Homo sapiens: one gene and its partners. The protein of the gene in region 4 interacts with the protein of the main gene of each other region in a pairwise test. Each region holds a gene or a part of one and is shown on either strand. Other genes may lie near its edges. The genes, in order: RPP25, AUNIP, TACO1 and DR1.

Region 1 (7,795 bases), on a different chromosome or scaffold from region 4:
GGATACACGCCTGTAATCCCAGCTACTCAGGAGGCTGAGGCAGGAGAATCGCTTGAACCCAGGAGGCAGAGGTTGCAGTGAGCCGAGATCGCACCACAGCACTCCAGCCCGGGCGACAGAGAGATACTCCGTTTCAAAAAAAATAATAAAAAAAAATCCATTGCAGCCTTATCTCCGTGACAAGACTAGCAGACCCTGCTTTCTTTTTTTTTTTTTCGAGACGGAGTCTCACACTGTCGCCCAGGCTGGAGTGCAGTGATGCAATCTCGGCTCACTGCAACCTCCGCCTCCCAGGTTCAAGCGATTCTCCTGCCTCAGCCTCCTGAGTAGCTGGGATTACAGGCGCCCGCCACCATGCCTGACTAATTTTTGTATTTTTAGTGGAGACGGGGTTTCACCATGTTGGCCAGGCTGGTCTCAAGCTCCTGACCTCGTGATTTGCCCGCCTTGGCCCCCCAAAGTGCTGGGATTACAGGATTACAGGCATGAACCACCATGCCCGGCCTCAGGCCCTGCTTTCATAGTCCTGGTAACCCGGCTATCAGTCACTTGTTGTCTTGGAAAGTTGGACCCTTTTCAGAACCAAGACCAGTCTCCCTTAAGCTTCTACCATGCAGGACCTTGTCCAAGTTTTATCACTGCCTTTAGATGCTGAAGTCCAGGAGAAGCTAGGCCATCTTGTCAGGACAGTTTACATTCTTTCCATGCTTCTTGGGCCACCCCTGAGAGGGTCAGACAAGCAAACCCAAACCCCTTGGCCCTCTCCAGGGACTCATCAAGAGCAGGAATTTGGGGAGAGCAACGAGGGACAAAGTCTGGATGACAAAGCTCACTCCAAAGCTCAAGCAGAGATACTGCAGGGGAGGGAAACCTCCCTAAGAGCCCCTCCAGTCAGCCACAGAACGTATCTCTTGTCACCAGCAGGATTTATTTCAGGGTTCTGCCAGCAAAATGACTTATAAATACATTCTTCCGCATCTCCCCCTTTCCAGGGGTGCTGCTGAGTTGCATGGGATGAGATCTGCTTCTGAGATCCTGGGGCTGTATGCCACCCCCAACTCACCAGAGCTCTTCCAGCACACAGCAGCACCCCCACCCCCCAGCTGGCTTGGAGTTGGGCAGAGAAGCTTATGAGGCTGTTATCTCTCAACAGACAGCTGTGCAGGGCTGGAGGCAGCAGCTTATCAGGAGGCCTGCAGTGATTCACAGCCCAAGACCCAGCTTCTCTGCTGAATAGTAATTTCCAGCAGTGGATTTGTGCTCAGTCTCTCTCCTCCCCCTTTCCCAAGGGTGTGCTGTCCTTTCTCAGAGAGAGGGCAGTGAAGGGGAGATCCTACCCACAGAGCTGGGGGCTTTGTGCCAGCCTTCTGGGTAAGGTTCAGTTTATTGTCTGGAGGCTGCAGATTCAGGGACCTCAGCAGGGTCTGCCACCCTTTGCAGTGACCTCCAGGAGAGTTCATCGATGCTGTCCTTCCACTCCTTCCTTCCCCTCCCAGAAAAACAATGTGCCGCTCCCTTTCCCTTAGTGGCGATGTACAGGGGTACACGGGCCCCCATTTGCAACAGCCTCTGAGGCCAGGGCCAGCCCGGGAGGGCGGAGTGGGGGAGGAGAGAGGAAGAAGCCAGGGACTGGGCAGTGCCTTGCACCATTTTGAAGCTGTTCAGTCTCTGTGCCTGACCCTGAAGACTCCAAAGACTCAGGACGCAAGGCTGGAGGGGAGGGGAGACACAAGGGGCCAGGCGAGAGCTGTCTCTGCACAGGCGGGTGGTTAGAAAAAAAATGGGGGACACAGCCATTTTTGTGCTTGTTTTATTGGAAGCAAGACTCCAGCCAGCTGCAGGGCTCAGGGGAGGAGGCCTGGAGAGTTCAGTCCTGGGTCTCCCTCTGGGCCAGCAGGGGGAAAAGGGGTGTTAAAAGAGCTAGAACCCTCAGAGATGCTCCTCTGAAGCAGGGGAAAGAAAACTAGAAAGGAAAACTGTCCCAGGGCGGGGAGCGGAATAGGGCCCCCACATCTCAGACTCTCCTACCCTCAAGCAGTTAATTCTCACCCCCTGCCTTCCTCTGTCAACGGTGGGGGTGATTCCAATAACTCTTCTCAGCTTCCATACTTCAGGTGCTCTTCGTGAATGCTGGGTGGCTTTAACCCTTGGGGGTCCCAAACAAGTTTCCAGAATCCCACTGTCCACCATTCTCCCCCAAAGAAGGTCCCAGAAAAGGTGAAGTTCCGTGTCTTCACGCAACACGGGCATAAGCAGCAATTATCGCACGAAGTTTCCCTAGGGTGGTCGGGGATCCTCTCCTGCCACTCCTGGGGCCCCTCTCTTGTCGCCTTAAGGTCCATGCTACCTGTCTTGAGGAGCTGTGTCCAGGTTGTGGGCTCCGGAGGACCGAGGAGTGAAAGGCTGGAGGTACATCTGAAGGTGGAGGCGCTGGCGGAAGATCCTGCCGGACTAGGTGGCCCACAGTCCGGAGTTTCAGGCCGTCTGATCCTCGTCCGCAACCCCTGGCTCGGGTTGCGATCGCTTCGCGGAGCCTTCTCCAGCTGCGGGTTCCCCTAGGCTCCTCTTGGACGCTGGCGCGGCTGGCGGGGACGAGGGACCAGGATGGGGATTCGGGGGCTGGTAGCCGGGCTGTCGCGGATCCAGCGCGTCCTTGGAAAGTAGGATGGCGAGGCCGGGCACGTTCTTAAGTACGCTGAGACTAGCGGCCGGCTCGCCAGGCGTCTGACCCTGCGTGGGCCCAGGCGGGAGGCTCTGCCACACCTCGCGTACGCTCCGGTAGCGCAGCCGCGTGACCTGGTGCAGGCCCGCCAGGCGGCGCTTGAGGATCTCGGCGCACGTGACGGTTTTGGTGGTGGCCCGGCCGCAGCCGCTGAAGACGATGGCGCGCGTGGCTGGCTGCGCCATGCTGGCGGTGGCGAAGGCCATCAGGTTCCGGATCTTGCTGCCTTCCTTGACCCGCATGTGCACCGCGCCCGGCGCCAGGTCTGCGAAGGGGCCGGAGCCCGGGCCGCCTCCCTCGGCCCCGCACCCCGCTGGCGCCTCTTCGGAGCGCACCTTACGGAAGTTCTCCATGCGCCGTCGTCGCCGGGACCGCCGGCTTTGCCATGGGGCGGCCTCAGCCCCGGGGCTGCATGGCCGCCGGTCGCGCCTTGCAAGGGCCAGCAGGGGTAAGGGCGCCGGAGCAGCGCAGACGCCGGCGGGCGGGCTGGGACGGCGCGATCTCGGCCCCACTTCTCTCGAGCGGGCGCCGCTCTACTCAGCGCTCTCGGCGCCGGGTGCTCCGCGCCTTTAGCTGAGGCCCCGCCCCTGCCGCCAGGCCCCTCCCCTGACCCGGCCCGGCCGGGCCCGCCCGGGCCCCAGCCTCACTAGCCTTTCCTGGCGAGTCTGGGTCCTCAGCTACGCGGGCGTGGGAGCGGGCGCGCTGCGGGGCGCATGAGCAGGTGAAGGTGAAGTTCCACTATAATCGCCATCAGCGCTCTGAGAGCCAACCCTCACAAACCGGCAGTCTAAATAAAAGCTGCGCTTGCCGTGCAAACACTGCTTCAAATCCGGTATCCGAGCCCTTCCCATTTGCAACTGAAGGCCGCCCCTCGTCCCCTCCCAGGGAGAGATTTCCAAGAGGCTTGCTGGGGCCTTGCCCCTCCTCCCCCGCCCCGGGGAACACCCCCACCTTTTTTCCGCTCCCAAGTATTCTTGCCTCAAGGACAGCTAGTGCGCGGTCAGCAGAGTGCGGGAGGAGCTGGCTGCGGCTCCACTCCGCGCCTCCCCGCGGGCGATTACGTCGCGGCGTGGTCCTCGCGGGGCGCGGAAGACCCAGACTTCAGCCTCGCCACGCCTGCCCGGAGCTCGAGGCTCCCGGACCCCCGTCCACCCCTGGGACGTGAGGAGTGAGGCTTTGGGCCAGGCTGTTCCCCGAGGCGCGTGGGGAAGCGGGCGTGACCTCTTCTGAAAAGGCGGTAGGCTCGCTCCACCCAGGCCCTAGAGCCCACCCTTAGAGCTGCGCGCTTTAGGGTGAGCCAGGCACGATGCCTTGCCAACGTGGCCGCCCCCTTCCTCCCAGGCGGAATTCGCTCAGGCAACATTGGCCCCTTGAGATCCAGTGGGGTCCTTTTCGAAAGGAGGCTAGGTGAACGCAGGTTTTAAAAAAGAGAAGGGAGGGGCCGGGCGCGGTGTCTCACGCTTTTAATCCCAGCACTTTGGGAGGCAGAGGTGGGCGGATTACTTGACGTCAGGAGTTCGAGACCAGCCTGGTCAACATGGTGAAACCCCGTCTCCATTAAACGTACAAAAATCAGCTCGGCGTTGTGGCACGCTCCTGTAATCCTAGCTGCTCGGGAGGCTGAGGCAGGACAAGCGCTTGAACCCGGGAGCTGAAGGCTGCAGTGAGCCGAGATCATGCCACTGCACTCCAGCCGGGGCGACAGAGCAAAGCTCTGTCTCGAAAAATGAATAAATTAATTAATTAAATAAAATACAAAAGAGAAGGGAGGGATACCCCATTCTCCAGGATGTGATTATTATGCATTGCATGCCTGTATCAAAACGTCTCATGTACCCTCTAAATATAGACACCTATTGTATACCCACAAAAATTAAAAAGACTTAAAAAAAAATAAAAGAGAGAAAGAAGGGAGGAAGATGGGGAGTTGAAGCCCTGGGGGCATTATGGAACTACTGGATGCCTCTCCGGCGGAAACTCCACGGGACCGAAAGAGAGGCCCGGGGTCTCCTGCCGGGTGAGAGAAGCATTAGAGAAAGATGAGATTGGGGGCTGTCAGGACTACTGATGGAAGGGAGGGGGTCTGAGAAGGGGCCCGACCCTCCCTAAAACTGCTCTCGGGATTCCCCCGTCCTCCTTCCACCCGCCCTACGCAGTCAGGACTGAGAGAGGGCGGCAGATCTGGTCCTAGCCAGGGGACTGTGACGGGGCGTGGCGGGGAGGGACACAGAGAGCTGGGGCGGGCGGGCCACCGGGAAAGTGCTGGGGGCATGACAGTGCCTTGGATTGCTGGGCCTCAGTTGGAGATGGGGCTGCCAGATGCTGTTCTCCCTCCTCCCGCTGTTCTCGCCCTCTGGGCATCTGCAGCAGCTCTCAGTCCCTGCTGTTCAAAACCAGGGTTTACTTCCTTGTCACTTCTTGGGAGCGGCCCTCGGTCCCTGCTGTTCAGAACCGGGATTTACCCTCTTACCACTTCCTGGGAGTGGCTGCGGCGACTGGACCTTGGCACCGCAATGTGTGAATGGCTGACCCCCTCCCCGTCTCCTGGTGGGATCAGGAACCCTCGGGGTATGCTCCGAACCGGGACTTCGGTCTCGGTCCAGTCTCCATGGGCCCCACACAGCGGTGGGGGCTGGAGGCACAGCAGCCTTGGGAAGAAACAAAGACTGTCCGCAGCGCGTAGCGGGGCGTGGAGAACCGAGGGCTGTGTAAGGTCAGGCCCTGAGAAAAAGCCCCCGAAAGGCTGGAAGTTACGTTGGAACGGGCTGGTTGTGGAAGGAGCGAGCTCTCCGTCCCCGGGAGTATGCAAGTTTGGGCTGCACGATCACTTGGAAGGGATTGGGCGGAGTTCTGTCATTTGGAGAAAGGGTCCTGGGAGCTTCAGGTTTGTGTAGGGCGAGGACGGGGCGGTTCTGCGTCCGGCCAGGTTGGCCCTCGAGGACCCAGCCGTCCCCAACCTCCTAAACTGCTGTCGGATGTAGAAGACTCGCATTCACTGCTCTCCACAGTCGGTGAAGGGAGAACGCCGAAAAGGGCCGCATTCCCTCCTGCCGGTCCCCTCCCCTTCCCGCGCTCCCTCTGCAGCACTTAAAATGTAAATGTACATCGTGATTAGCCGCGGGGTCGCTAATTACAGCTGAAGCCATTCATTACACTGTCAGCGCGCGTCGCAGCCCGCCGGCTGTGCGCTCCCTCCTAGCCGTGAAGGGGTGTAGGGGGTGGGGGCGGGAGATGCGGGGAGTGAGGGAGGAAGGATGGGGTGCTGTGAATTAGGGTAATGTGGCAGGCCTGGAGGAAGCTGGAGTGGGAGAGAGCGGGCAGCGAGCGGGGAAAACAGGGTGGGCGGTGAAGGACGGGGCGGGGTGGCGAGGAGAGAGGAGAAACGCGAGAGGCAGGAAGGAATTGGGGCATGAAGTAGTGAGGACACAGGGAAAGGGGCTGTATGAGGGGGGAAACAGCGTAGGGGACAGGGCGAAGGGAGAAAAAGCTGAGAAGAGGGTGGGAACCCCAGGGTGGGGCCAGAGTCAGAGGAGGGGAGCACAGGGCTCAACTTCAGAAAGGCTGGTAAATTTTAAAGTAGAGCATCAGTGGTGCACACCACACAATGGTTAGAAAAGTGGAGTCAGTGAAGACGTTGTGTTAAAGGAGCTGGGTGCCAGCCATACACAGAGTAGGGGGGCATTTATTTCCGTGTGTGTTTATAGATGTAAATGTATTTTTAAAATATCTGCAAGAAAACAGCACACTGACCTCTTGTTACCGCATGAAGTTTTCATTACCTTCTTTAAGAAAAGGACAATTAAATATGAATACAGAGTCTTGGAGCAGCTTGCATAAATGAGCTACTGACCCTGAAGCTTCAGCTTCTATTAGCTTCTTTCTGCCTCTGTGTGACCTTGGACAATTTACTTAACCCATTTGCTTTGGCTTTGTCATCTGTAAAATGGGGCTAATTATAGTAATCTACCTCACAGAGTGATTATGAGACACAGCCGTCTTGGAACCTTGGCTGCTAAGTTCTCAGGAAATGTTGGCTGTTATTATTTTTCATATATTATTTGTGAATTTAAAAAAATTGTAAAGGGATTGGGGGAAAGAAAACTGGTGAAAAGGAAAAGAAATTGGGAAAGACTCAGAAATAATAGCAGTTTTCACTCACAGTGAACTGGTGAGTGGCAAGCTAGACTCCTTTCACCCTGGGAGGAGGTGTTGGGGTAGCTGGGCTAGAGGCCAAGCCTAGCCAATACATATCTGTTAAGGTTCCCTGGGACCTTTCCAGCAGCACACCCTACTTCCTGTGGACAAATCTCTCATGTTCACACTGGAGGGGGATCGCTGGTACAGCCCCTCTCCTCTGTCTCTTGTTGCAGGAGGAGGATGAGGAGCTCTTAAAACCCCTGATCCTAGTCCCAGCCTCTTTGGGCAGGGTCTTGGGAGCATGCAAGTAGAGTCAGGAATTAGAAAGTTAGCAGGGCCAGGCCGGGCGCAGTCGCTCACTCCTGTAATCCCAGCACTTTGGGAGGCAGAGGCGGGCGGATCACGAGGTCAGGAGATCGAGACCATCCTGGCTAACACAGTGAAACCCTGTCTCTACTAAAAATACAAAAAATTAGCTGGGCGTGGTGGTGGGCGCCTGTAGTCCCTGCTACTCGGGAGGCTGAGGCAGGAGAATGGCCTGAACCCGGGAGGCGGAGCTTACAGTGAGCCGAGATTGTGCCACTGCACCCCAGCCTGGGCGACAGAGCGAGACTCCGTCTCAAAAACAAAACAAAACAAAAACAACAACAACAAAAAAGAAAATTAGCAGGGCCAGAGGGAACTCAGATTTAGCAGGCACCCACCGAGTGCCCAGCATTGGGTCAGATGTGTTTAATCTCCACACTCTTCTTTCCAGGAAGGTATCATCATTGTTTGACAGATGTGAAACTGAGACCCAGAGAGGTTAAATAACTTGCCTTATGTACCACAGCTAGAAAGAAGCAACCACAGATGTTTGAACTCAGAGTTCTGACTCCCTTTACTATCTCAGCCGAATGTATGAGAAAAATAAACTTTTAAGTGACTCAAACTGCC
Region 2 (8,289 bases), about 68 Mb from region 4:
CGGGCTGAGAGCGCCTCACCCCTCTCATGTGTTTCACATGGCCAGATCTGTTCTTTAGGAGAGAAAACAGCTGGTGCTGCTGTGTGGAGCCTGGGACCGGAAAGGAAATTAACAAGACAGGGAGCCTTATTAGTTAATACATTCCTCAAACATTTATTGAGCACCTACTATGTGTCAGGCACTGTTCTAGGTACCTGGAATACATCAGGGATCCTTGCTCTCATGAGGTCAGAGATGAGGAATTCCATAGGATGAGTCTTCTGTTCTTAAACCGAGTGTAAGGATAAGGCTGTCGGAGAGGAGGGAGTAGGATTTGGGCATCAGAGCCCCCCAGCTGCTGCTCGTGGGGGTGAGGACACCAGGCCCCTGACTTTGCTCTGGTCTCTCTCCCAGCTCCCTGCCCAGGCCCACAGCCATGGCCATGGCCCAGAAACTCAGCCACCTCCTGCCGAGTCTGCGGCAGGTCATCCAGGAGCCTCAGCTATCTCTGCAGCCAGAGCCTGTCTTCACGGTGGATCGAGCTGAGGTGCCGCCGCTCTTCTGGAAGCCGTACATCTATGCGGGCTACCGGCCGCTGCATCAGACCTGGCGCTTCTATTTCCGCACGCTGTTCCAGCAGCACAACGAGGCCGTGAATGTCTGGACCCACCTGCTGGCGGCCCTGGTACTGCTGCTGCGGCTGGCCCTCTTTGTGGAGACCGTGGACTTCTGGGGAGACCCACACGCCCTGCCCCTCTTCATCATTGTCCTTGCCTCTTTCACCTACCTCTCCTTCAGTGCCTTGGCTCACCTCCTGCAGGCCAAGTCTGAGTTCTGGCATTACAGCTTCTTCTTCCTGGACTATGTGGGGGTGGCCGTGTACCAGTTTGGCAGTGCCTTGGCACACTTCTACTATGCTATCGAGCCCGCCTGGCATGCCCAGGTGCAGGCTGTTTTTCTGCCCATGGCTGCCTTTCTCGCCTGGCTTTCCTGCATTGGCTCCTGCTATAACAAGTACATCCAGAAACCAGGCCTGCTGGGCCGCACATGCCAGGAGGTGCCCTCCGTCCTGGCCTACGCACTGGACATTAGTCCTGTGGTGCATCGTATCTTCGTGTCCTCCGACCCCACCACGGATGATCCAGCTCTTCTCTACCACAAGTGCCAGGTGGTCTTCTTTCTGCTGGCTGCTGCCTTCTTCTCTACCTTCATGCCCGAGCGCTGGTTCCCTGGCAGCTGCCATGTCTTCGGGCAGGGCCACCAACTTTTCCACATCTTCTTGGTGCTGTGCACGCTGGCTCAGCTGGAGGCTGTGGCACTGGACTATGAGGCCCGACGGCCCATCTATGAGCCTCTGCACACGCACTGGCCTCACAACTTTTCTGGCCTCTTCCTGCTCACGGTGGGCAGCAGCATCCTCACTGCATTCCTCCTGAGCCAGCTGGTACAGCGCAAACTTGATCAGAAGACCAAGTGAAGGGGGATGGCATCTGGTAGGGAGGGAGGTATAGTTGGGGGACAGGGGTCTGGGTTTGGCTCCAGGTGGGAACAAGGCCTGGTAAAGTTGTTTGTGTCTGGCCCACAGTGACTCTCTGTGCACGACTCAACTGCCAAGGGCATCACTGGCCAATTCTTGGATTTAGGGATTGGCTAGGAGTTGCTGGGGTCCACTCCTGGGCCTGCCCCAGCTCCTTGCCCAGGGAGAGGGAAAGAGTTAACGGTGTGGGCCACTCCAGCTTGCCCTTCCACTGCCACTCACTGGGGTGAGGCTGGGGGTCAGCTTGGTGAGGATTGGGGCTTCTAGATTGTCTAGGCAGGAGGTGAAACTTAGGCCAGAGTCAGATTTGAGCTGAGCCAGGGGAGGCCTTGGCAACCTACTTCTACTCAGATTTCATTGCTGGATGCGGAAGGGGTAGGCCCAAAATATATACAGGATCTTACTGTCCCTTGAAGCCCAGCCACAAGTGTTGGAGCTGCAGAGAGACCCCAAAGGTAGTAGATTGTGCCAGATACAAATGGGTCCCATCCAGTGCTTCATACTCCTTCAGTCACTATCCCAGACAGTGAGCCCCAGATCTCCTAGCTCTGGCTTCTGTGTCCCACACGGCCTGTTCCCAGCTTCTCTCCTGGTTCCCTTGTTACGGATTCATTTATCCATTCAGTGTTTCCTGGGCCTCTGCTCAGAGGCAGGTCACCACTGGGCCCTGTGGATCAATGCAAGATGACAAAGGCTTTTTTTTTTTTTTTTTTTTTTTTTTTTTTTGAGGAGTTTCGCTCTTGTTGGCTAGGCTGGAGTAAAATGGTGCGATCTCGGCTCACTGCACCTCCGCCTCCCAGGTTCAAGCGATTTTCCTGCCTCAGCCTCCCGAGTAGCTGGGGTTACAGGCATGCACCACCATGCCTGGCTAATTTTCTGTATTTTTAGTAGAGACGGGGTTTCTCCATGTTGGTCAGGCTGGTCTTGAACTCCTGACCTCAGGTGATCTGCCCGTCTCGGCCTCCCAAAGTGCTGGGATTACCGGCATGAGCCACTGCGCCTGGCCGACAAAGGCTTTGATATCAGAATGAACTGTCAAGGGAGGTGCTGGAGAGGGATTAACCTGTGCTGCCTGGGACCCTCAGGGTCTTAGGTTGGGGAGTGTGAATAGGAGTTTGCAGATGGAGAATAGGAAGGGCATTCCAGGCAGAGGGAAACCTGTGCAGAGACCAAGAGGTGTGGAAGGAAAAGTGGGGTTGGGGCTGGGTGGTCTGGATTATGGCCTGGATGCAATAAAGTACTGTGACAGTAGCCACCTCTTTGTTTTTTGTCTCCTGTTTCCGGGAGGGGCCCCTGCTCACATTACTGGAGGTTTTCCGGAGGAAGCTGGGGCCCCTGGGAGTGGACACAGGGTGCAGGGAGCAGTTCTTGTTTTATCTTTGCTGGGGGATGGGGTTGGGGCCTTATATACCATATCTATATATACAAAATTTGTTTGGCAAGGGAGTGGGCGGCAGTTTTATTACTAAAGTTTTATAAGTAGTTAAAATAATGTGTTTAAAATATGATAATCCCACTTTATGATCTGACAAAGACTTTTTTTGTTTGGTTTTTCCTTCAATTAAGGAGGGTTTTTTTGTTTTGTTTTTAGTGGAGGGGGCAGGGGCGTGCACACTCCACCACACATATTGAGCCTCGTCGCATGCGCACCGAAGAAGTATGTTAACTTTTATAATATTGCTTTTTCCATAGTACACAGCAATATATATACAATGAAGGAAAATTGGGAAGATAAGAAAACCCAAATTAATTAGAAATATCACTTCACTGCTGAAATATCATGGGGGACCTTATGAAATACACACACACACACACACACACACACACACACACACACACATAAAATATGTGTATATAAATAAATATTTTGATATAGGCCAGGCATGGTGACTCACGCTTGTAATCCCAGCACTTTGGGAGGCTGAGGCAGGCATATCACCTGAGGGCAGGAAGTTGAGACCAGTCTGGCCAACATGGCGAAAACCCATCTCTACTAAAAATACAAAAATTAGCCAGGCGTGGTGGCACACACCTGTAGTCCCAGCTACTTGGGAGGCTGAGGTGGCAGGATCGCTTGAGCCCAAGAGGTTGAGGCTGCAGTGAGCTGAGACTGTGCCACTGTACCCGAGCCTGGGTGACAAAGCGAGATGGCTCTGTCCACCATGAAGACAGGCTCTGGCTGCAGAGATGGTTGAGGTTCCTGGCTGACCTGCTGCAGACTGGGCAAGAGGTGGCTGAGCTTCTATCCTCCCTCCACCAAAAAAAAAAAATTACAAAATTTTTGGCCGGGCGCGGTGGCTCATGCCTGTAATCCCAGCACTTTGGGAGGCTGAGGCAGGCGTATCACGAGGTCAGGAGTTCGAGACCAGCCTGGCCAATGGTGAAACCCCGTCTCTACTAAAAATACAAAAATTAGCTGGGTGTGGTGGCGTGCGCCTGTACTTCCAGCTACTAGGGAGGCTGAGACAGAAGAACCGCTTGAACCCAGGAGGCGGGGCTGCAGTGAGCCGAGATAGCGCCACTGCACTCCAGCCTGGGCGACAGTGAGACTCCGTCTCAAAAAAAAATTTTTTTTACATATACAATATGTAAACATTACGTATAATGTACATATATTCCATCTATGGAGATTGTGGTTAGGGACGGAAGGATGGGTGGGGGTGCCAACATTTTTGCATTTCCAAGGGGTTTTCTGAATTCACAAAGTACTTTCACAACCTCATTTGATCCTCTTTAAAATCCAAGGCACAGTAAACGGTGAAAGCAGGACTGAAATCTAGTTCCTGACCCCAAATTTTAACCTCTTCAAAATCCTCTCCCATGTGGCTTCGTAGTTACGCTTACATTAAAAAAAAAAAATTACCAAAGTTGTTCGCACACTCGAGTGTCTGGTAACCACTTAGGTCGAGGACCCCTGGTCTGGAGTCGACGGGCCTGATCTCGGCTCAGCCACTTCCTTCTGGGGGTGATCGCGAAGATTCAGCGATGACACGAACAAATTCCTAAGCCCGGGAAATACTGTAAGAAATTTTCAATACAGCAAAAAGAAAATGTACATTTCTGAGGCTGTCGAGAACCGTTCACACAGCAGCTTCCGAATCCGCTCTTGAAAGAGCGGATCAGAAAGAACACGCACTCCTCCGCGCAGGGAAATATGCCGCACGCACTCAAGGGACCGGCCGCGAAAGTTAGTGCGTGGGCGGGGCACAGCGAAGGGGGCCAGGGCCTTGCCGGGGCGGGGCTGGCGCCCGGGGCGGTCGCGACGTAGCCCCGCCCCCAGCGTTGGCGCGAGATCCGAACGTCGGCGGCCGCGGTTCTGGCGTTCCCTGAGGCGCCGGGAGCCTGCGCCGGCGTCCTGCCGGCTTCGTCTCCTCAGCGGCCATGAGGCGGACAGGCCCCGAGGAGGAGGCCTGCGGCGTGTGGCTGGACGCGGCGGCGCTGAAGAGGCGGAAAGTGCAGGTGGGACGCTGGGGGATGAGAGGGCGTTGGGAACCAGGTAGGGCCTGGAGGCGTAAGACGGGAGGAGTTTGGGGGACACCTGGAGATGATGAAAGCGAAGTCGGGGACAGAGAAGGGAACAGCGTTGGGGATTCACAGGCGAGAGGGATTGTGGTCTGAAGAAGGTTGAAAAACGGGGCTTGGGGAGGATGGGAGGGACGGAAGGAAAGAGCGTGCTGTTGGGGGGTCTGGAGGAGCGGTGCGCAGGGAGGGGCGGCGAAGGTTCAGGTGTGGGAGAGGCGGAGGGAAAGTTCGCTCGGAGCAGTTGAACTGACCAGGCTCCCTAGGAGGCCACAGTCCCTGCGAGACGTCCTAGTAGAGGCTGGAGCATTGGGAGATGGATGCGAATGCAAATTGGGGAAATTCTCACCCCGGGGTCTGTTTCCACCCAATTTGCCAAGTTGCAGGCCAACTACCTGCCCAGAACCGGTAACTTTGAGGGGAAAAGTAGAAGCTATGGGAAGGGGAGCTGGCCTCCTATGTACTGAGCAGTCACTGGGTGCCGGATACTGCATTAGATACTGAATATGCGTTATATGTGTCGTCATTCTTGCTGGGAATGAGGAAACTGAGGTTCAGTAACTAACCTAGGCCCGCCTAACTAGAAGGAGCTGGAAATCACATTCAGGTCTGTCACCTAGGCAAGATGCTCTTCAGTCACTGTAAAGAAACAAAAGTGCGACATAATAATCATTCATGTTTATTGAGCATTTTATGCTGGTGCTAAGTGTTTTAGGTATGTTACCTTGTTTGGTACAATTCTATATGGTAGATAGTGTAATGATACCCATTTTACATACGGAAAACAGGCTCAAAACAGACACTAGGGGCAAGATTCTTGCTCTCAGGTTGCTCACAGTCTTATAGGGAAGAAAAGAGGTGTATAAATAATAACAACAATACCTAACCTTTATTGAGTGCTTTCTATGTGTCAGGCATTTTGCCGAGACTTTATACACTTTATCAATGGCAGGTACTCACCAAAATTCAGTAAAGTAGATTTTGTCATTATCCTGGTTTTATAGATAAGAAATTTGATCATTTTATTATTATTATTTATTATTATTATTTTTTGAGATGGAGTCTTGCTCTGTCGCCCAGGCTGGAGTGCAGTGACACAATCTCAGTTCCCTGCAAGCCCCACCTCCGGGGTTCACGCCATTCTCCTGCCTCAGCCTCCTGAGTAGCTGGGACTACAGGCGGCCACCACCACGCCCGGCTAATTTTTTGTATTTTTAGTAGAGACAGGTTTTCACCGTGTTAGCCAGGATGGTCTCGCTCTCCTGACCTCGTGATCTGCCCGCCTCAGCCTCCCAGAGTGCTGGGATTACAGGCGTGAGCCACTGCGCCCGGCATATTATTATTATTGTTATTTTTGAGATGGAGTTTCACTCTTGTTGCTCGTGCTGGAGTGCAGTGGCGCGATCTAAGCTCACTGCAACCTCTGCCTCCCGGGTTCAAGCGATTCTTCCGCCTCAGCCTCCCGAGTAGCTGGGACTACAGGCGCCCGCCACTACGCTCGGCTGATTTTTGTATTTTTAGTAGAGACAGGGTTTCACTATGTTGGCCAGGCTGGTCTTGAACTCCTGACCTCAAGTGATCCGCCCGTCTCGGCCTCCCAAAGTGCTGAGATTACAGGCTTGAGCTACCGTGCCTGGCCGATTGTTTTATTTTTTCAAAAATTATCAAAATGGCCGGGTGCGGTGGCTCACGCCTGTAATCCTAGTACTTTGGGAGGCCGAGGCGGGCGGATCACCTGAGGTCAGGAGTTCGAGACCGGCCTGGCCAACATGGTGAAACCCCGTCTCTCCTATAAAAAATACAAAAATTTGCTGGGCGTGGTGGCAGGTACCTGTAATCCCAGCTACTCGGGAGGCTGAGACAGGAGAATTGCTTGAACCCAGGAGGTGGAGGTTGCAGTGAGCCGAGATCGTGCCACTGCACTCCAGCCTGGGTGACAGAAGACTCAGTCTCAAAAAAAAAAAAAAAAAAATCAAAATGTGCAATAGCTATTTATTACTCCTTGAATTAGGAATAAGCCATTTGTACCCTTTGAATACATTCTTGAATGACATGGGATGCGTGGGAAACTTGTATACCACTTTGATTTGTTAGTTAATTTTGGAGACAGGCCTCAGTCCGTCACCCAGGCTAGAGTGCGGTGGCGTAATCACGACTACCTACAGCCTCAACGCCCCCGGGCTCCAGGTGATCCTCTTGCCTCATCCTCCCGAGTAGCTGGGACTACAGGCATAGTGCCACAAAGCCCAGCTCATTTTTTGTATTTTTTTTTTTTGTAGAGACGGGGTTTCGCTGTGTTACCTAGGCTGGTCTTGAACTCCTGAGCTCAAGTGATCTGCCCACCGTGGCTTCTCAAAGTGCTGGGATTACAGGTGTGAGCCACTGCACCCAGCCACCAGTTTAATTTAGAAAGAGAACAGAAATAGAATTAGGAAGAGTTCAGGAGAGCGAGAAAGGGAATATTCCACAGGGAAGAGGAGAGCCAATATTTGTCTCTCTGTCTATAATTCTGTTTTGTTGTTGTTGTTGTTGTTGTTGTTTTCCGAAATGGAGTCTTGCTCTTGTTGCCCGGGCTGGAGTGCAGTGGTGCGATCTCAGCTCACTGCAACCTCCACCTCCTGGGTTCAAGCAGTTCCCCTGCCTCAGTCTCCAGAGTAGCTGGGATTACAGGCATGCACCACCTTGCCCAGGTGAATTTGTATTTTTAGTAGAGACGGGGTTTCTCCATGTTGGTTAGGCTGGTCTTGAACTCCCAACCTGAGGTGATCCACCTGCCTCGGCCTCCTGGGATTACAGGCGTGAGCCACTACGCCCAGCCTAATCTTGTTTTATTGTTTGTTTTGTTTTTTTTTTTTTGAGATGGAGTCTTGCTCTGTCACCCAGGCTGGAGTGTAGTGGCATGATCTCGGGTCACTGCAGCCTCTGCCTCCCAGATTCAAGCGATTCTCTGCCTCAGCCTCATGAGTAGCTGGGATTACAGGCGTGTGCCACCATACCTGGCTAATTTTTGTATTTTTAGTAGAGACAGGGTTTCACCATGTTGACCAGGCTGGTCTCGAACTCCTGGCCTCAAGTGATCCACCTGCCTCAGCCTCCCAAAGTGCTGGGATTACAGGCATGAGCCACCGTGCCTGGTCTGTCTATAATTCTTATACCCCCAAATCCTGCCTTTTTCCCTGGCAATGTTATGGTGAAAACATTTGTCTTGTTGATGTAGTACATGACAGTTATAGAATCCTCCAGGATCTCTAGGC
Region 3 (7,920 bases), on a different chromosome or scaffold from region 4:
ACCAAGCCAAAGGAGTGGCAAATCACCATTTAGCTCTCAGTTACCTTAGAATACCTTAACTAGTGTTTCAGTGGGATACGGAGAAGTATTTTCGGGTTTTTTTGGTTTGTTTTTTGAGATGGAGTCTCACTCTGTTGCTGGCTGGAGTGCAGTGGCACGATCTTGGCTCACTGCAACATCCACCTCCTGGGTTCAAGTGATTCTCCTGCCTCAGCCTCCTGAGTAGCTGGGATTACAGGTGCACACCACCACACCCGGCTAATTTTTGTATTTTTAGTAGAGACCAGGTTTCGCCATGTTGGCCAGGCTGGTCTCGAACTCCTGACCTCAGGTGATCCACACACCTTGGCCTCCGAAAGTGCTGGGATTACAAGTGTGAGCCACTGCCCCTGGCCTGGATAAGTATTTTGGAAAAGTACTTTTTTTTTTTTTGAGACAAAGTCTCACTTTGTCACCCAGGCTGGAGTGCAGTGGCATGATTTTAGCTCACTGTAGCCTCAACCTCCAGGGTTCAAGCGATCCTCCTGCCTCAGCCTCCCAAGTAGCTGGGACCACTGGTGTGCACCACCACACCCAGGTAATTTTTTTCGTATTTTTTGTAGATTCAGGTTTTCACCATGTCGCCCAGGCTGGTCTCAAACTCCTGAGCTCAAGTGATCTGCCTGACTCGGCCTCCCAAAGTGCCGGGATTACAGGTGTGGGCCACCATGTCTGGCCAGAAAAGACCTTTTTTTTGAGACAGAGTCTCACTCTGTCATCCATGCTGGAGTGCAGTGGCATGATCTTGGCTCATCTTGGCTCAATGCAACCTCCCACTCCCGGGTTCAAGGGATTCTCCTGCCTCAGCCTCCTAAGTAGCTGGGATTACAGGTGTCTGCCACCATGCCCAGCTAATTTTTGTATTTTTAGTAGAGATGAGGTTTCACCACGTTGGCCAGGTTGGTCTCGAACTCCTGACCTCAAGTGATCCACTCACCTTGGCCTTCCAAAGTGCTGGGGTTACAGGCATGAGGCACCGTGCCTGGCCAGAACTTTCTAATTCATTGTCTTTAGGGATGGTTTTCATTCTGCTAGGTTTCAGCGATCTCTACTTTGTGTCAGATGAAGAAGGGTTATAGATGGTAACAACACTTCCTGGACTCATTACTGCTCTTACTCTACTACTTTGTGCATAATAATTATTTTTATTTTATTTTATTTTTATTATTATTTTTTGAGACAGAGTTTTCCTCTGTTGCCCAGGCTGGAGTGCAGTGGTGTAATCTCGGCTCACTGCAAGCGCCGCCTTCTGGGTTCACGCCATTCTCCTGCCTCAGCCTCCTGAGTAGCTGGGACTATAGGCGCCCGCCACCACCACGCCTGGCTAATTTTTTTGTATTTTTAGTAGAGACGGGGTTTCACCGTGTTAGCCAGGATGGTCTCGATCTGACCTCGTGATCCGCCGGCCTCAGCCTCCCAAAGTGTTGAGATTACAGGTGTGAGCCACCGTGCCCAGCACTTTGTGCATAATTATTGAAATGTTCACATGACATTGTGATCTGAGGGTAGGGGCTGTATCTCATCATCTTTCTAGTACCAATGGCATGCCTGGCACAAAATAAACACAAGTTGGTTGAACTTCATTGGGATGCAGTGGCTGATACCTGCAATCCCAGCACTTTGGGAGGTGGAGGTGGGTAGATCATTTGAGGTCAGGAGTTCGAGACCAGCCTGGCCAACATGGTGAAACCCTGTCTCTATTAAAAATACAAAAAAATTTAGCCAGGCATGGTGGTGCACACTTGTAGTCCCAGCTACTCCGGAGGCTAAAGCAGGAGAATCACTTGAGCCTGGGAGGTGGAGGTTGCAATGGGCCAAGATCACGCCACTGCACTCTACCCTGGGTGACAGAGTGAGACTCTGTCTCAAAATAAATAAATAAATAAATAAATAAAAGTTGCTTGAACTTAATATCAAGAATTTTGAAGAAAAGGAAGCAAACAAATACCAGGCATGAGCTGAGGGGGTAAATTAACATTAACTGAATGCCTATGATGTGCCATAAACCATAAACTACCTCAAGGTGGGTATTATCCTTGTTTCAGAGAAACTCAAGTTAAGCTACTTGTTCAAGGTTAGTCAGTGACAGAAACCAGTCTTCCTGACTCCAAAGTCCACAGTTTCTCTCTCTTTTTTTTTTTTTTTTTTTGAGATGGAGTCTTGCTCTGTCACCCAGGCTGGATGGAGTACAGTAGAGCAATCTCGCTTACTGCAGCCTTCAACTCCTGGGTTCAAGCAATTCTCCTGCTTCAGCCTCCCGAGTAGCCAGCATTACAGGCATGCACCACCATGCCCAGCTGTTTTTTTTTTTTTTTTTTTTTGTTATTTTTAGTAGACACAGGGTTTCCCCATGTTGGCCAGGCTAGTCCTGAACTCCTGACCTCAAGTGATCTGCCTGCCTCTGGCCTGGGATTACAGGCTGTGCCACTGCGCCCAGTCCAAAGTCCATGCTTTCTACAGGACTTTTCCTTTGCTCCTACAGATGTCTGGCCCTAAACAGAAAAAAAGCCTTTTCAGTGTGGCGACCTAAGGGAGAAAAGACATGGCTGCAAATCTACCTTCCAAGGAAATGTGTCTTGGGGAAACATTAATGAAGCAAACTAAGGCCTAAGCTAAGGCCTAAGCACTTAAGTAATAGCTTTACTCAGTGCCCCTGCCACAACCAATAAGGTACTTGAGGCGACTTCAGAGGGGTTGATTTGTCTCTTCAGGAGAGACACACATCTGCCCTGACTCTTAGGGCTTGTTTCTATTAAGTACCCAGCTAGATTAGGATGAAGTCACTTCTACCTTACCGGCTTATCTTCTTAAGAGCAGCTCCCTCTCTGACAAACTGGCCAGATGCTCAGCGTCTGGAAAAGTGAGTGAGAACCTCCAACGTAGGGTAGGTGTTTTGAGGATTTATGAGGTGGGCAATGGTGGGTACTGGGGAAGGAAAACAAAGTGAAGGGCCGGAGATCTAGGTGGGCCCAATTCCGAGAGGCAAGCGAGGCTGCGGGCACTGAGAGGGCAGCGGCAGCCAGTGCTGGGTGACCGTCAGGGTCTCACCTTTCACTGCCAGGCGGATGTTCAAACAGAGTTTGGAGAAGATGCGACTCCTTTCGACGTCCTTCGGACCCTTGATGTGCCTGACTTTGGACCACTTGTTGTGCCCGGCGGGGACAGCCGCGGTAAAGTGCAGCGTCCTGCCCGGAGCGGCACCGCAGCCCCGGGGCTCGGGGTGGGAGGGCCGGGGGTCGCGCGGAGGAGCCGCCCTGACCCCGGGGCCTCGTGCCAGCAAGCATCGGGCAGCGGCCCTGCTTAGGCTGGCAGCAGCCCAAGCCGACATCGGTCCCGACCCTGGGGTTCAAGCTGCTAGCAGCAGCGGCCAACGCCGGCGCGTCTCTTCCACTGCCGGAACAAGCAGTTCCGGACCCCGCGGCCGCCTGTGCCGGTCACCTGAGATCCAAAGGCTTGGGCCCGCCCGGGGCGGCTCAACAGCTAATGACCCTACACTGTCCCCGCGGCACCCGGGACTGGGGGCCCTTGATGGCGTAGCACACTTCCTTTACCGGGTTCGCTCCAAAAACACGTCCCCACTGCCCGCAAAGTCCGTTCCGTGGCTGCACGGTACTCGCTCCTCTCTTGCCCTTGAGCAGATCTAGTTAGTGCTCAAGCCCTCACGGTTGCCTAGAGAGCGCCGGACTTTGTTTCTCATAATGTTTTAGTGGAGACACATCTGAGTTATGAAACTGACTTTGCTTCCAAATTGCTGCCTAAATCTGAGCAAGTCCAGAATGATATTTTGTTGTTGCCTCATTGTACTGGGAAAGAAACTGCTGCCAGAGAAGTGAATTGCCCAAATGTTTAATCTCTCTGAACGTCTTCCCTATTTATAAATAAGGATCTAATATTTGCTTTATCAACATAGGAAAGTTAGAAACACAAAATGAGCCCTTAGAGCTTTAAAGTAATAAAGTTTTATGTAAATAGCCACAGTGCACTTAAGCCCCTAGATGCAAGAGATGGTTTGGGACAGACTCAGATGAGTCACAGGCCTTTGGGAGAGGGAGAATGATCAGACAAGCCCTTTGGAGCTAAACTCCCCTCTTCATTTTCTCTCTGCTGTCTCGAAAGAGAAAACCGAATCCGTTAGAAGATGGAGAGAAACAAAGCGGCAGCTGCTGAAAAGCTTTGTAGTGACTCCCATGCTGGTGAGATTAAGTCCAAAGGGCATGACATATCAGGTAGAGAAGCAGGACAGCCGGGCGCGGTGGCTCACGCCTGTAATCCCAGCACTTTGGGAGGCTGAGGCAGACGGATCGCTAGGTCAGGAGTGCCAGACCAGTCTGACCAACATGGTGAAACCCCGTCTCTACTAAAAATACAAAAAAATTAGCCGGCCGTGGTGGCGCGCGCCTGTAATGCCAGCTACTCAGAAGGATGAGGCAGGAGAATCGCTTGAACCCGGGAAGAGGAGGTTGCAGTGAGCCGAGATCGCGCCACTGCACTCCAGCCTGTGCGACAGAGCGAGAATCCAACTCAAAAAAAAAAAAAAAAAAGAGAGAGAGAGAGAGAGAGAAGCAGGACAGTGTGAAGTCCAAGTTTGTGCCCTCTGCAGTTAGACTGGGTGGCTTCAAACCCTGGTTGTTCCATTTTCTAGTGTATCCTTGGGCAAGTTCCTTTACTTTCCTGTTTCAGTTTCCTTACCATAGAATGGCCTTGTGAGGACTAAATGGGATAATGGATGCAAAGCACAAAAGCATAGATTTTTTATTTTTTATTATATAAGAACCTCCATGGGGCTGGGTGCGGTGGCTCACGCCTGTAATCCTAGCACTTTGGGAGGCCGAGGCTGGCAGATCACTTGAGGTCAGGAGTTCAAGACCAGCCTGGTCAACATGGTGAAACCCCGTCTCTACTAAAAATACAAAAATTAGCCAGGTGCGGTGGGTGCCCATAGCCCTTCATACATGCTTGCACCTTAGCACTTACCTTTTAAAAAAATATCAAAATGTTTATATCTGTTTCTACCGTAATACTAAATTCTCTGAGAGTAGGACTGTACTTCCTATGCCCAACACAGTTCTCATTTTTTAAAAAATTAAGTTTTGACATATTTCACAGATCACACAGATCACCAATTCAAAGTGTACAATGTGTTATAGAATATTCAGAGCTGTGCACAATTGATTTTACATTTTCATCATCCCCAAAAGAAGTCCTGTACCCATTAGCAATCATTCCCTATTTCCCCCCAATTCCCACAGCCCTAGGCAATCACCAATTTACTTCTGTCTCTGTGGGTTTGCCTCTTCTGGACATTTAATATGAATGGGCCCACACACTATGTGGCCTTTGGTAACTGGCTTCTTTCACTTAGCATGATGTTTTCAGGATTCTTGCATGTTGTAGCATGTATCAGTATTTCATTTCTATTGCCAAATAATATTCCATTGTATGAATATACCACGTTTTATTTATCTGTTCATCAGGCAATGGACATGTGGTTGTTTCCACCTTCTATGATGAATAATGAGGCTGTGAACATTCATGTACACATTGCTGTGTGGACCTATGTTTTCACTTCTTTTAGTTATATACCTAGGAGTGGAATTGCTGGGTCATATCATAACTATGTTTAACCTTTTGTGGGATTGCCAGACTGTCTTCTAAAGTGGTTGTATCATTTTACATTCCCACCAGCAATATATGAGGGTTTAATTTCTCCATATCATGAATTTTTTTTTTTTTTTTTTGCTTTGTTACCCAGGCTAGAGTCCAGTGGAGCAATCATAGCTGACTGCAGCATAGAACTCCTGGGCTCAAGTGATCTTCCCATCTCAGTCTCCCAAGTAGATGAGATTACAGGTGTGAGCCACTGGCTAAATTTGTTATTCTTTTTGACTATAGTTATCACCATCCTTGTGGGTGAGAAGTATTATCTCATTGTGGTTTTGATTGTATTTCCTGAATGACTACTAATGGTAAGCATCTTTTCATGTGCTTATCAGCCATTCATATATAGTATTACTTTTTGCAATTTAAAAATAGTTTATTCAGGCCAGGCATGGTGGCTCACACCTGTAATCCCAGCACTTTGGAAGGCCGATTTGGGGCAGATAATGAGGTCAGGAGATCGAGACCATCTTGGCTAACACGGTGAAACCCCGTCTCTACTAATAATACAAAAAATTAGCTAGGTGTGGTGGCACGCGCCTGTAGTCCCAGCTACTCAGGAGGCTGAGGCAGGAGAATCGCTTGAACCCAGGAGGCGGAGGTTGCAGTGAGCCGAGATCGCGCCACTGCACTTGAGCCTTGGTGACAGAGCGAGACTCCATCTCAAAAAAAAAGAAAAAAATATATATGTAATATTTACTTTGAGAAGCAAAAATCAAATTAATGGAATTTGTAATCACAAATAAGTGTAGAGGCTAAAACAAGGTTTGAGACTGCCCTAGTCCAGTCAGCCTGAGACCAGCAAGGGAAACCTATAGTCTCACAGAGTTAGGCTTATCAACTCACTGCAACAAGGGAGACTGCACACCAGAGGAATGGTGAAGTGTCTTACCGAAGAAAAAACTGGTCATAGAATTATGGGGAAGGGTGGAAGTTAGGTGAAAAATTAGAGTTAGGCTCAAAGAAACACAGACCTGTGTGAAAGGCGGATTAAGATCAGCTGGACTACCAAGTGGACCCAGGGGATCAGTTTCCCTGGAAAGTACAAAGTCAAGGTAAATGTGGACTGTTGTGTTCAGAAGCCCCTGCTCTGAAGCACAATACCTGGCCTGGAAATCAAGGCTGCTTCTCTGTCAGAGTGACTCAGCTCCTCCAAGCAAGACTGACTATAAGCCTTAATTCTCACAAATACAATTGCAAACAGCAAACTTTGTCAGCCTATGATTTTGGAGAACGAAATTTCTCAGTGAATTTTTTTAAAACAGTAGTCACTCAGGGAGTTTTGACACTTTATGTTGCCAAAAAAAGAAAAAAAAATTGCAGTGTGTTCTTGATAGAGGTACTATATCCTGTTAACTGTGCAGCTGGTTTTATCTGTCTGTGCATCTGTGATGAATGGCAGGGCAGATTTTAACTCTCAGTCTGAGTTAATAGCCACCTTTCAAGATAAATTCATAGTTGACTGAACCATCTCTAGACGCCTGGCTGTCAGGCTCACTGAAATCACTTAAGTAACAATGAGCCTTGGAAGCTAAAGACTGGCTACAAATATCATTCCATTAGGTTTGACCATGTGTTGTCCAGTACTAACAGCTCTCAATGAATGAGATTACATTAGTTATTAGTCCAGATACTTAGCCGATTTGCTAGTATGGCTGAGACATAATTATTCACTACTTCACTTCCTTTTCCAGGGTACACAGGAAGACTACATTTCTTGACTTGACCTTCCTTGCAGTTGGCAGATAGGAGCAAAAGTGAGTAAGCCACTTCCCGGCCCATCCTGAAAAATGTACTCCCTCCCACCCCCCATAAGCAACCTGGAGGTCACACGTTTATTTTTATTTTTTGAGATGGAGTCTTGCTCTGTTGCCCAGGCTGAAGTGCAGTGGTGCGATCTTGGCTCACTGCAACCTCCACCTCCCGGGTTCAAGCTATTCTCCTGCCTCAGCTTCCCAAGTAGCTGGGACAACAGGCGTGTGCCACCATGCCTAGCTAATTTTTGTATTTTTAGTAGAGATAGGGTTTCACCATGTTGGCCAGGCTGGTCTCGAACTCCTGACCTCAAGCTATCTGCCCCTCCCTCCCCCCTCAGCCTTCCAAAGTGCTGGGATTAGAGAGTTGAGCCACTGCACCCGGCCCAGAGGACTTTGTGTAAGCAAAAAATAAGCTTTTGTAGTGCTCAGTTTCTGAGATTTGGGGGTTTGTTGCCGCAGCATAGGC
Region 4 (7,692 bases):
TATAAATGGTTTTTATATTTAATGTTCTATAGAGAGATTTCTATTATTACCATTTTTACTATTTTCAAGAATCTTAGGCCCAAAAGACATTTTGGTCATTTGGTATGTAGTACCTGCCTTTTGTTTTTGTTTACTGTTATTTCAAAAAATGTGGTTTTACTTGTATTTTTATAATTTACAGTCCTAAGATCGAGGCATAACAAAGCTTACTTATGCAATATTTTATTTTTAGGTTTTTTCTTTTTTTTTTTTTTTTTTTTTTTTTTTTAGCATTTAAGAGTCACTATTATGTTTTGCCAGTTAAAATTTTTTAAATCTTTTGAAGAGAGAAACAAAATCTTCAGCGTTCTTGAGAAATAAAATTATTGTTCAGTAAGTATTTTTCCATCCCCTTGAATATATGTTATATATTCTTTTTCGGCAGATTATCAGATTAGTAAGTGTTTAAAAGGCATCAGTTTTTAAAACTGCATATACCACACACACACAAAACAGTACACAAATAAAGGTTTTCACAAATTAAACAAACTCACATACTAGTCTTCAGATCAAAACACAGAGCATTATGTGTACCCCAGAAGCCCTCCTCTTTCCCCATCTTAACACTGTCTTCTTTCTTGCTGAAAGTTACTATCCTGACTTCTAAAATCATAGATTAGTTTTGCCTGTTTTTTATTTTATGTAAATGTAATCATACATAATACACTTTTTTTCATTCATCATTTTTGTGAATATTTTAGTTTCTTGTTGCCACTGTAACAAACTACCACAAACTTAGTGACTTAAAACAACACAGATTTATTCTTTTATAGTCCTGGAGATCAGAAGTCCAAAAATCAGTTTCATTAGGCCTAAATCAAAGTATCAGCAGGGTTGGCTCTTTATTGAGGTTGTGAGGGAGAATGTTTTCTTCCCTTTTTTGGCTTCCAGTGACGGCCTGTATTTATGGGCTTGTGACCCCTTCCTCTCTATGATCAAAGCTTGCTTTTGTCATTATATCATCTTCTCTTCTGTAGTCAGATCTTTCCCTGCCTCTAAGTTTAGGGCTCACCTGCATAAAGCAGGGATAATCCCCCTATCTCAAGATCCTTAATTTAATCACATCTGCAGAATCTCTTTTGCCATATAAGTGACATTCACAGGTTCCAGGGATTCATACGCTGGCTATCTTTGGAGGCCGTTATTCAACCTGCCAAAGTGAGATCCATTCTTATTGTTGCATGTATTTGTAGTTCATTCATTCTCATTGCTGTATAGTCTTCCGTTTGTTTATCCATTTTTCATTACATCCAAAAGTTATTCATTCTCCCATTAATAGTCTTTTGAGAATTTTTCAATTCTGAGCTATTATGAATAGTACTGTGTAGAACATTCTTATACATGTCTTTTGGTGAGTGTATACATTTCCATTGAGTATAAACCTAAGAATGGAATTGCCAGGTTGTAGGGTGTGTATATTTTCAGTTTTAGTATTTACTGTCAAACAGTTTTCCAAAGTGACTGTAAGAAGGCACCATTTTAATGTGTAGCATAAAAATGAATTACGCTAATGATCTTAGTGGGTTGAATTTCTCGAAACACCTAAATTGTACCAAATGAGTTATATTGCAGCAGGTATGTTGTTAATTTCATATAACAGGAAAATAAGAGCAAAAGTAATTGCCCTTATTAACTGACACATTAGTATTACATACTCATTAGGTTATTGCTCCTTAGAAAAAATGCAAATTTTAAGTAATCGTAAGTAGTATGTTGAATTAGTATGTTGTGGGAAAATCTGTGATTTAATTTTTTAATTGAATTTTAAATTTTGGGTTATAACCTCATTAAAATGCATGATATTTCCTTATATAGGTTTCTAAATTATGTCTGTCCAACTCATCTATATCCAAATGGCCATTAGGAAGAATTATCCAATTCAGATGGCATAGGCACTGCCTTCCAATTTCTTCATTTGTATTTTTTTGTTGCTGTTTTCTTTTTTGCCTCTGTCCCCAACAATTTGACCACAAGTCCTACCCCACCTCCTCTGTTTTTCACCATCCCCCAGGATATAAAGTGTCATGGTTAGGATCGGCCAGGGTGAAGAGAATGATAACATAAGTAGCCTCCTTTCACCTAAAGTATTACCACTGGTTCTTATCCTATTTCCTCAAAATAAATGAGAAGAGAAAGTAAGGAATAAGAGGAAGAAACTTTTTTTTTTTTTTTAAAGAAACAGGGTCTCACTATGTTTCCTTTTTCTTTTTTCTTTTCTTTTCTTTCTTTTTTTTTTTTTTTTTTTTGAGACAGAGTCTTGCTCTGTCACCCAGGCTGGAATGCAGTGGCGCGATCTCGGCTCACTGCAAGCTCCGCCTCCCGGGTTCACGCCATTCTCCTGCCTCAGCCTCCTGAGTAGCTGGGACTACAGGTGCCCGCTAGCACGCCCAGCTAATTTTTTTTGTTTTTTTTTAGTAGAGACAGGGTTTCACCGTGTTAGCCAGGATGGTCTCGATCTCCTGACCTCGTGATCCACCCGCCTTGGCCTCCCAAAGTGCTGGGATTACAGGCGTGAGCCACTGCGCCCGGCCTATGTTTCTTAATATAGATTGCAGTGGCTAGATTACAGTGACTATTCACAGGCATAATCATAATGCACCATAGCCTCAAACTCCTGGGCTCAAGCAATCCAAAAGGAGGAAACTTTTAACTTATGATCAGTTTCTACCATAAATCAAGCAACTTAGAAAAACCTTAGAACAGGGTTTCTCAAACCAAGCATTGTTAGTATTTGGGGTTGGTTAAGTCTTTGTTTGTGGGAGCCTATCCTGTGCATTGTAGGATTTCTAGCAGCATAATTGGCTTATGCCCACTTGATGTCATTAGCACCACTCCCCACCCTACTTCCAGTTGTGACAACCCAAAAATGTCTCCAGACATAGCCAACTGTCCCTGGGTGTTGCGAGTATAGGAGGCAAAATTGCACCCTGTTGAAAACCACCACCTTAGATCATCTAGGTTTTACTTTTAGGATAAGACACTTGAGGGAAAGGCTGTGAAACTGAACCTCTGTTAGAAGCAACACACAGTATCACTGCAAAAAGACTAAAAGAAATAGGTGATTTGGAAAGAGGAGGCCCAGGATTAAAATATGTTTCCAAGAAAGTCAAATCTTACAGGAGACTCTTGACTTCACATCTGCTGATCCCTTTACCCGATAGGACCTAGAGCAGCCATTATAAATCTCTGTACCTGCTTGCTGCTTTTCTACCTCATTGTTAGCCACACCCAGTTTGAAACAGATGAGGTATGCTATTTCATAACTAGTACATCTTTTAATAAGCATTTTTTATTGTGATTAAATATGCATATCGTAAAATTCACCACTTTAACCAGTTTTAAGTGTTCAATTCTGTGGCATTAAGTATATTCATACTATTGTGCAACCACCACCACCATCCGTCTACAGAACTCTTCATCTTCCCAAACTGAAATTATGTATTCATTAAACAATAACCACCCATTACCTCCTCTCTCCTCAGCCTCTGGTAACCAGCATTCAGTCTCTATGAATTGACTACTCTGGATATCTAAATGGATTCATTCTTATTTCATTTACCATAATGTCTTCAAAGTTCATTCATGTTGTAGCATGTATTAGAATTTCTTTCCTCTTAAAGGCCAAATATGCCGTAGTATGTAAATACCGTATTTTGTTTATCAGTTCATCCATTAATGGACACTGGGTTGCTTCTGCTTTTTGGCTATTGTGAATAATGCTTCTGTGAACGTGGGTATACAAATAACTGTTTGAGTCCTAATAGGCTTGTTATTTTTGAGTGCACAGATCTGTATATTCGCAATTGAAATAGGGAAAGTCTTTATATTCATATAAAGATAATTTATAATACAATAAGTCCTCAATGTTGTTGATAGGTTCTGGGAAACTGCGAGTTTAAGAAAAACAACATATAATGAAATCAATTTTACCATAGGTGAACTGATATAAATAAGAGTTAAGTCCCTATGGCATATATTTCTGGTTACAAAAACACTACCAAATTTCTAATAAAGACCCAAAACACTTCTAAAATTAAACATTGAGATTAATATGAGCTTTATATACATTTAAAAAGGATAAAAACAAGTAAGAATTGGCTGGACATGGTGGCTTACGCCTGTAATCTCAACACTGGGAAGTCGAGGTGGGCAGATGGCTTGACCTCAGGAGTTCGGAACCAGCCTGGGTAATATGGTGAAACCCGTCTCTACAGAAAAATTCAAAAATTAGCCAGAGGTGGTGGCTTGCACCTGTAGTCCCAGCTACTCGGGAGCCTGATGTGGGAGGATCCCTTGAGCCTGGGAGGTCGAGGCTGCAGTGAGCCATGATCACGCTACTGCACTCCAGTCTGGGCAACAGAGCAAAATCCTATCTCAAAAAAAATATATATATTATCCAGCCCCAAATGTTTATGGGGTTGTTATTGATAAACCCTGCATTAAACAATCCCACAGTCGGTGCTGCGGTGAGCCGTGATGGTACCACTGCATTCCAGCCTGGGTGACAGAATGAGACCCTGTCTCAAAAAAAAAAAAAAAAAGTAAAAATTATTTACCCAATATTTGGCGAATCAGTGAGTGACAGCAGTTGTAGTGCTAGTGGGTTAAATCAAGGAATAACTGTTGGGAAGTGAAAATTTTAAGGAGCACCTCCTACCACCATGCAGTTCAAAAACAAAAAATAAGAAATAAAGTGGGCTTGCTGAGTGCTTTCATACTGCATCATTTATTGTGCATTTGTATGATTATTATATACTTTACAAATTTTCGTTTTACAGTAATTTGTATTCATTCGTTTTTCAACCTGCTTATTTCAGTTCAGTGTCTTGGGTAGCTGGAGCCTATCCCAGCAGCTCAGGGAGCAAAGTGGGAGCCAACCCTGGACAGGATGCCTTTTCATCACAGGGCGCACTCACACGGCACACACACGCATACTGGGACCATTTAGCTGTACCAATTCACCTAACGTGCATCTTTGGGAATTGAGAAGAAACCAGAATACCCAGAGAAAACTCATGCAGATATGTGGAGGACATGCAAAATTCACACAGACAGTGGCCCTGGTTGTAAATAATTGTTTTTCATCAATGTTATAATGAAATTACAGGCCGGGTGTGGTGGCTTACGCCTGTAATCCCAGCACTTTGGGAGGCCGAGGCGGGTGGATCACGAGGTCAGGAGATAGAGACCATCCCGGCCAACATAGTGAAACCTCATCTGTGCTAAAATACAAAAAATTAGCCAGGCTTGGTGGTGTGCACCTGTAGTCCCAGCTACTTGGGAGGCTGAGGCAGGGGATTTCTTGAACCCAGAAGGCGGAGGTTGCAGTGAGTTGAGATCGCGACACTGCACTCCAGCCTGACAACAGAGCAAGACTTCGTCTCAAAAAAACAAACAAAAAAAGAAATTACATTAGTTGAGGACCTGCTGTATGTGATATGAACAATGAGGATCAACTCTTTTTGTAATAGTTTTTTTACATATGTTATTTCATTTGTTTATTTCCTCTGTGAGGGTAAGTATTGATAGTCCAGTCATAGACTGGTAACACAGGCACACCATTAAAAATAATAGACATACAGTATGCAGTATTTTGTTTTACTTATGAAACTCCGTATTTTATGTATGATGTATTGAGTATGAAGAATAGTACATACTGTTTCCTTTTAACTTTATGTTTCTTGCCTTTGTATATTTTATATGAATAGCACTTGTCACTAACATAGAAAGCAGTAGAGGTGGAAGAGGGAGACTTGCCAGAATAAGTTTTTAATGTGAATCAGAGATTTTTATTAGGAATTGGGAGTGGAAGGAGAGAGATAGTATTAGAAAGTATGTATGCAGCAAAGGATGGAGAAACTGTCCTTGTTGTTAAGGCATCTAAGGATGCTCCAATTACTGGGGAAAACATACCAGGCTCAAAATGGTCTGATTATGCAAATACCTTCTAATACGTTTGTTTCTTTTGTTGTGCCTATAAAAGATGCCATTAACTTCATATTTATGTCACTAATAAACTTCTAGAATCCATGTAGTAGGGTGTAGTAGTGTGGTTAAGCTATGAAGAACAATGGTATTTATTTCCAAAACACTTATTTGGTATATTACATAGGATAGAGTATGTTTTCTAAGCCAAATAGTGTTAGGTTTTCATGTGCAGTTGCCTTACACATATACTAGTAGCCCTTACAAAATTTCGTCTGTCTTTATTATAAACATGTTGTAAGTGAGGAAACTAAGATTCCAAGAAATTAAGTACTGTTGGCCCTCTGTGTCTGGGGGTTCCACATCTATAGATCGACCAACCATGGACTGATGGATTGAAAACATTTGGGGAAAAAACAAAAAATAACCCAACAATGAAATAGTATAAATTTTAAAAATAATATAACAATATTTATATATCATTTACATTATGTTAGATATTATAATCTAGAGATGATTAGCATCCTTGGATTTTGGATTTTGGTATCCTTGGGGTATCCTGGAACCAATCCCTGGCGGATACCAAGGGATGACTGTAATATAATAACATCTAACAAGTGAAGGATTTGAACCCCAATGTAAGTAATTATGAAAACTATTTTTCTTCCACTAGAACTTTTTTCCCCAAAAATACTCTGGAAATACTGGAACAAATACTAAAATAAATGACCTTTATTTGAAGATCTTTTAAAAAAATTATAAGCCTGCCTGAGGATAGCAAAATTGTGTGCTTTTGCAAGGTAATTGTAGAACTCATTCTAAGGAAGCAGAGGTAATGTCTGTTACTATTTTCAGCTCCCTTTTTCTGTCCACTGTTGTCTAAATGATTCACTCAGTGTTATGCAGAATATGAGAAGTTATTTTATAAAGTTGATTTGTGGTATAGGCTTTACATATGTCTTTTCTTTTGGTCAAAATACTAAAGAAAGCTTATAGAAAAAGTGACCTGGTGTCAGGTTTTAGTTTCATCCTTATCCAAATGTTGCAGAATTTTGGAATCTTTTGGAGTACACTTTCTCTTTAAAACAAGCCCATCACCTTTAGTATAGTGGTGAGTAAAAATAAAATAAAAACAAGGCCAAATTGCGTTTTTCTAAATTGCAAGTTCCCTGTTTTCCATATCCCAGTAACAAACCTACTGTTGTGCAAATAGGAAATAACATCTAGTAGCTACTTTAGCAATGGACGTGGCAAAATAAATAAATTAGTAGCTATGGCTCATTATTTAGGATTTAAATGAGCCATAACTACTATAAATGAAATTGAAGATCATGTTCTTAATTTGAAATTAAGGATCATGATCTCATTGGTACTGATGAGTCAGCAGCTATCAATATATAAGGATAACCCTTATATTTTAGGAATTATTTTAGGAGAAAGAACTATTTTAGGAATTATTTTACACAGAATTCTAATCATGCTGCCTTGGAGGTTAGGCAACTACCATTCCTCACTTTGTAGCTTTATTGATTCTCTTCTGAAGCTTGCAGTAGCCTCCTAACTTGCCTTGCTGCCAGTCCTTCCTTGTCCCAGTCTATCCTTCACATTGCCACCAGTGTTATTTTTCTGAAATACGAAAGCGAATATGAGGCTTCTCTGCTCCTTGGTGATAATAGTATAAAGTCCAAACTCTTAAGTATTACATAAAAAGTATGTTTCACAGCACAC

Evidence for each region.
Region 1: the proteins of DR1 (region 4) and RPP25 interact in binary tests that used the Homo sapiens proteins (3 or more experiments, as listed by UniProt).
Region 2: the proteins of DR1 (region 4) and AUNIP interact in binary tests that used the Homo sapiens proteins (3 or more experiments, as listed by UniProt).
Region 3: the proteins of DR1 (region 4) and TACO1 interact in binary tests that used the Homo sapiens proteins (3 or more experiments, as listed by UniProt).

Annotation. Positions count from the first base shown.
Region 1 is NC_000015.10:74,953,509-74,961,303, forward strand, and holds RPP25 (ribonuclease P protein subunit p25), read right to left. Parts: upstream 3,265-7,795; 5' UTR 3,076-3,264; coding exon 2,476-3,075; 3' UTR 910-2,475; downstream 1-909. UniProt on the Homo sapiens protein: Component of ribonuclease P, a ribonucleoprotein complex that generates mature tRNA molecules by cleaving their 5'-ends. Also a component of the MRP ribonuclease complex, which cleaves pre-rRNA sequences.
Region 2 is NC_000001.11:25,855,966-25,864,254, reverse strand, and holds the start of AUNIP (aurora kinase A- and ninein-interacting protein), read left to right. Parts: upstream 1-4,797; 5' UTR 4,798-4,897; coding exon 4,898-4,975; intron 4,976-8,289. Other genes in the region: PAQR7 (membrane progestin receptor alpha), read left to right, coding at 416-1,456. UniProt on the Homo sapiens protein: DNA-binding protein that accumulates at DNA double-strand breaks (DSBs) following DNA damage and promotes DNA resection and homologous recombination.
Region 3 is NC_000017.11:63,596,531-63,604,450, reverse strand, and holds the start of TACO1 (translational activator of cytochrome c oxidase 1), read right to left. Parts: upstream 3,557-7,920; 5' UTR 3,368-3,556; coding exon 3,088-3,367; intron 1-3,087. UniProt on the Homo sapiens protein: Acts as a translational activator of mitochondrially-encoded cytochrome c oxidase 1.
Region 4 is NC_000001.11:93,362,587-93,370,278, forward strand, and holds the end of DR1 (protein Dr1), read left to right. Parts: 3' UTR 1-6,907; downstream 6,908-7,692. UniProt on the Homo sapiens protein: The association of the DR1/DRAP1 heterodimer with TBP results in a functional repression of both activated and basal transcription of class II genes.